2 separate regions of the Homo sapiens genome follow, and region 1 is linked to region 2. A link means that fine-mapping ties the variant in region 2 to the expression of a gene that starts in the linked region. Tissue or cell type: whole blood. Region 2 holds a variant in brackets; the other region holds the start of a gene. All regions are shown on one strand. Distances are from middle to middle. Region 1 holds the start of ELOVL7 (ELOVL fatty acid elongase 7). Region 2 overlaps ELOVL7 (ELOVL fatty acid elongase 7).

Evidence for each region. PIP is the estimated chance that this variant, and not a neighbour inherited with it, causes the effect.
Region 1: ELOVL7 starts here. The variant in region 2 is fine-mapped to the expression of ELOVL7 in whole blood (INTERVAL, PIP above 0.99).

The regions. Positions count from the first base shown.
Region 1 is chr5:60,842,798-60,845,701 of GRCh38, forward strand. It overlaps ELOVL7 (ELOVL fatty acid elongase 7), which reads right to left and starts at 1,472. Exons shown (of 9, transcript NM_024930.3): 1 at 1,363-1,472. RefSeq lists silencers at 1,144-1,203, 1,214-1,373, 1,394-1,693.
Region 2 is chr5:60,819,335-60,822,238 of GRCh38, forward strand. The region is part of intron 1 of ELOVL7 (ELOVL fatty acid elongase 7); the gene reads right to left. Among named protein-coding and RNA genes, the nearest start is that of ELOVL7, 23 kb to the right of the region's middle. The variant C/T (reference allele first, on the strand shown) is at 1,372.

The sequences.
Region 1 (2,904 bases), 23 kb after region 2:
AGAATAATATTAATATCTACTTCCCAGGATCGTTGTGAAGATTAAAAGCTTTTACACAAGAACTGACATCAGTGCCTGGCACCTAAGCACTGATAAATGTCTGCCACGGGGTGAGGGGTGGATTTTATTTAGTTCTCGGTGACCTTGGGGAGACCAATTTCTGATCAGTAGTACGAAGAGAAACTACAAAGAAAGGGAATGAATAAGCGGGTGCGTGGTAAGAACGCAGAGGCAGCCACCAGGTATCGATGACCCTTTCGGAGCACGTAAGCAATAAAAGTGAGGAATGAAATAAAGGGTAATCCGAGAGCACAGGGTTAAGTGAACATGCTTTCCGAGGGGAGATCGTAGCAAGAGGGAAAAGACCACTGGCGAGGAACTCGGGTCGCTAAAACTGTTCTTCAGTCGACGCGGGACTAACTACACTGGGAGCAGGACAGGTGTAAAGACCCGCTCCTTCCCGTCCCGAGTTCCCCAGGGAGCTCCAAAGAGCGCTCTGTCCGCACCGGGTGAAGTTTGAAACAGCTCTGACTTGAAGGGGGAAAGCCCATTTCCCAACGAACCTGGGAAAGCCCATTTCCCAACGAACCTGGGAAAGCCCATTTCCCAAAGAACCAACGATACCTGGGACGACAAAACAACAGGCTTTCCTGTTTCCATCTCCGGCACGACCTGTTCCACGGCTCTGTATTCATCAGCCTCCTCCCGGCCAGCAGCAGCCACCAAGACAGGATGCGGCTCGGGGAGCCGAAGGGACAGCGCCCCAAGTTCATCTGGCCGCGGGAGCAAAAAAAGCGCCCAAAGGGGAAGGAAGGAAACAGAAAGAAAGGGGCTCCGGAATTTGGGGGGGTGGCTAGCGAGGCCAGACCCCGGAGCTGGGAAAATGACCTCCGCGTCCAAGGTCGAGCAGGTCCTTCTCCCTCCCAGTCCCGCCGGCGAGCACCTCTGCCCCTCCCGCTCCGCTCCGCAGGGCCAGCGCCGCGCGGGACCCCAGTCCAGGCTCCGCTCCGCAGCGCGCCCACCGGGCCCGACCTTCCCTTCGGGATGCTGCCGGGTGGGGGCTCCCGAGAAGGCGCAGGTGAGCGCCGCGGCCCCGCGCTCCGGCGAAAAGGGCCTCGGTCCTCCCCACGCGCAGGCAGCGGGGACAGAACTTCCCAAGCGCCTCCCGAGCCCAGGGAGGGCCTGGCCCCGCTCCCGGGGCCCCCGCACCCGGGTCCCACTTCTCGCGCGCCGCGCCCAAGTTCCTCCATCCGGCCACTCCCGACGCCGTTCCCCTCGGCTCTGCCTCCCTCCCCAGTCTCTTCTCCTCCGCGCGCCGGGAAAGTTTGGCCCCTGCCCGCCGGCCTGGAACCCCGCACTCACCGCACAGGGAGCGGAGCCGAAGCGCCGGGCGCGCGCGGGAGAGAGGGCGGCGACTGGCAGCGCGAGCGCGGAGCTCCTCACAGCGGCCCCCGCTGTCCCGGCCGCCGACTGGGTTGGAAAGGGGAGGAGGCCGCCGGGTGTCACCTGCCCGCTATCCCACCCAGCCGCGTGACGCGCGCAGCGCCGCCCCCTGCCCGCCGCCGCCAGGTGCCCGCCGAGGGCCGGAGGGAGGAGCCGGGGCGGCGCGAGGGGGAGCGGCCGGGAGGGCGGAGGCCGCCCCGGCCTCGCCTCCGCCGCGCGCCCTGACTCTCGGGACTGGGGCCCACCGGCCGCTCTGGGTTAGCGGGGCTGGTCGTGGCACCGATGACCTTTCTTTCCGAGAGCAGATGCCATCACTTGGGGGACATCTCCAGGCTGACATAGCAGAGTGGAAATTGTCGTCATGCGTGACTCATTTGGGAATGAGCAGTAGAAAAATCCGAAATGAGGAAAACCTAGCTGAGGCTGGAGGCGGAGAAAAAGGGGACTCCTTGCTTCTGAAAGGGTATTGGGAGGGTTAATTCGCATCTGAAATGGAAGCCAGACCAAGAGGAGAAGGCCCTGGGAGGGGAAGGCCGACTTGGTTCAGCTCCATCCCCTGCTTATAAGGAATAAGAAACTAGAGAATTGAGGCAGCCTGGGGGGCATGGGGAGAGGACTTTTAGAGCAATGAAGATTAGATTGTATATCATCTAACTTTGTTTCTGGTAACAGCAACTGCTGCAGGAAAAAAAGTCTAGAAAATTCATTTCTCGTTACCTACTGTTGGATTGGAAAGTGGGGGTGGGGATGAGCGTTCGGAGTGTGCACCTGCGCTTGGTTTATTTATTTTTTAAACGTACCTGGCCTTGTGTCTGGTAATGATCCTCCTAATCGCTGGTATGATTTGGATCATCAATAGCTGAAAGGCAAAATAGGGGCCTAGAGAAGTTCCCTGCTTCTGAGGCAAAACCAAAGGCTGGTGTTGAACTGTCCAGAAACCTAAAAAACAATAATCATTTTTAGTTGCAGTCCTGACCCAACCACCTCACAAATGTGGGCTTTGAGTTTGTATTGCGAGTTCTCAGCATGGAATCAAGAAACACAAAAAGGGGCTGGGAGCGTCAGGACCACCAGAGAGGATGGGTAGGGAGAAAAAAAAAATTGGGGTGTCGGAAGCATATTTTCCTCACATGTAGGGATTGCCTTCGGCAGCTTAATCCCACTACATTAAACAAGAGGTTTTAATGTTTTTATGTAAAACTTCGAAAGTGTCCATTGAAAGAAAAGCAAAAAAAAAAAAAAAAAAAAAAAAAAAAGCTTAAATTGCAAAGAATCTCGAAGTCAAAAAAACTAAAGATTTCTCCTTTCTTTTAGATAACTTTGCTTTCATATTAAAAACAGATCATTTAGTAGACTTAGGAAGTCTTTTGGGAACGGGAGACAATTGCCTAATGATACTAGCCTTTGAGTCTATCACAATTTACCATTTATATATACTTATGAAATTTCAAATATGCAGAA
Region 2 (2,904 bases):
GAGATGGACAATGTACTGACGGTTAGAAGAAAGAGTGAAGTTGAAGGGTCGTGATCTATCTCGGTTCCCATTCCCATCTGACACTGGGCAAATTCAGTCTCCTTTTGCTTCCCTGTACAAATGAGAGGTGCTAGAATGCATAAGTGTTTAAGAACCACGATCATAGGCTGGGAACGGTGGCTCATGCCTGTAATCCCAGCACTTAGGGAGGCCGAGGTGGGTGGATCACCTGAGGTCAGGAGTTTGAGACCAGCCTGGCCAACATGGTGAAACCCCGTCCCTACTAAATATACAAAAATTAGCTCGGCGTGGTGGCAGGCGGGCGCCTGTAATCCTGCCTACTCAGGAGGCTGAGGCACGAGAATCATTTGAACCTGGGAGGTGGAGGTTGCAGTGAGCCAAGATCGAGCCACCGCACTCCAGCTTGGGTGACAGTGAGACTCTGTCTCGAGAGAAAAACAAAACAAAACAAAAAAAACCACGATCATAATGCCTACCTGACTTGGTGGATAATTACTATTGTAGTAGACAAAATGATGCTCTCCCCTCCGCGCCTAATATGTCCAAAAGGGTTTCCACAGATGTAATTAAATGTATAGACCTTAAAATAGGGATTTACCCTGGAATATCATGTTGGGCCCGATGTAATCAAATGCATCCTTAAAAGTAGAGAACTGTCTCTGGCTGGAAGAAGGAGGATTTGAAGCATGAATATTCAGTGCAACTTTGCTGGCTCTGGGATGGACTGGCCCACATTCAAGGACTGGGGAGAGGTTCCTAGAAGGTAAGGGTGGCCTCTGACAGACAGCCTGGAAACAGGAACCTCTGTCCTACAGCCACAAAAAAAGTAAATCCTGCCAACAACCTGAATGAGCTTAGAAATGGATTCCAAGCTCCCATTGGAGCTCCAAATGGAGCCTCCTAATAAGAGCCCAATTGACCAACACCTTAATTGGGCCTTGTGAAACACAGAGCAGAAAAACCAGCTGTGCCAACCTGGAATTCTGACCTACAGAACTGTGAGATAATACATTTGTGTTATTTCAATGAACTTAAAAAGTCTGTGGTGGTTTGTTATGGCAGCAATAGAAAACTAATACACTATCTTTCGGTTTAGTTTAAGAACCATTTGTCAAGCCTGTTCCACATGCCAGGCCCTGTGACCAGTGTCTGGGATAGAAAAATGGGTACACATTCTCAAGGAGCTCATAAGTACTTCAGCCCAATGGACAATTCTATGCAAGAAGTTAGCACAAAGCACTACAGGAACACAGAAAGGCACCTAACTGGTACGACATCTTTAGACTCTTGACTTCTCACTTCTCCAACACCCTCCCCTTCTATTATTCGTTCTCCCAATGAGTTGGACCA[C/T]GAACCTGATCACAAATCAGAAACTGTGAGCCATCCTTAAACTCCACTGACCCCTTAAGACCTGTGGTGTATGCCATCTTTATGATATTTCTCCTAAAAGTCCCTTCCCCTTTCCTTCAACTCCACTTCCTCCCCTCAACCCCTGACTGCTACTTCCTGAGCTTTATCATCTCTTGGCCACACACAGAAGGAAGTGAACTAATAAGTTTGTCTACTGATAAGTCTGTCTTGTGTTGATGTTCTCTTGTCTGCCTAGTGAATTATCTGTTTTTAGTATGCTGTAGCTTTAAGCCCTATACAAAGTTCTCGGTAAATTTGAGTAATAATTATAATTACTGCCTAGTTCACTTCCGTCTTTGTGTGGCCAAGATTACTGAAATCACCTTTCAACTAACTTTCCTAAATGAACAGCCATCCACTGTACACAAGGCCACCAGAGTCATCTTCCCAAGGATTAAAGCAGTCACACCATGCTCTACTTCAAAATCCTTCAAAGTCTGCCTACAGTTACTAAAAAGTCTAACTCTGTGGTGACGCTTAGCACCCTTCTAATCTCTAGCAGAGCAAAACTGTCCCTGCTGGACTTCTAACCCCAATTCCTAGGCAGGGTCTGGCACATGGTTGACTTCCAAACAGTATTCGCTGAACGAATGATCTCAACCCCACGTGACTCTCTAGCTTCATCTCTTGCCTAACAGCAACCTTTTCCACTATGTCCCCTCTATCCTCCAACTCAGCAAGCCCAAGTGCTCCTCCTTCCCCCTCTATCTATGCTCCAGTTTCTCTTCATGACTAAAAATCCTTGTTCGGCTGGCTGGGAAGCCTAGCTCACTTTTCATAATTCTGCCTTCCTCTAACATGCTTTCTGTTCCCCTTACAGCTAAACCACCCAGGCAAACTGTCCAGTCTCTTCTGAGCCCCTGACATAAGCTGTCCCCTCTTCTACCATGGCATCTATAGCAAACACTCTAGGACAGTGGCCTGTGACTGGTGCTGACGCACAAATGGTTTCTTACTAGATTGGTACCAGCTAACTCCAGAAATCAAGTGTAAGCATTTAGAAATGTTTATAGCAATTTGACATTGCTGTGACATCCAAGTATGTGATGCTTGTTGAACAAGGCATAGACCAGTTCAAGTGTTGCTGAATTTGTGAGGTGAGTCACATGTGGTGCAACCTGCATATTCACTATGTGCAATAGGACCATTTACTGATCCACGATAGGGAAAAAAAGAAAAAAACAAATTAAAAACCCAGTTGGTCTATTACCACAGATAGTTTGAGAAGCACTTCTCTAATGCCTTCAGGTGTGTTCTTACCTTCCTCCTTTTGGGAATGTTGTTTGCTGCCTGGGACAATGCAACAATGCAAATGTCTAATAAATATCAGTGAATAAATAAATGAAGGTGTGAATGATAAGAAGGCTTTGTGAAAGATGTGAGACTGAGCTATTTCTTGGTGAACAGTAGGAATTGGGTACTTTGGGGTTGTAGGATAGTCAAATGCACTGAGAAAGGAGTGCAAATGAGGAA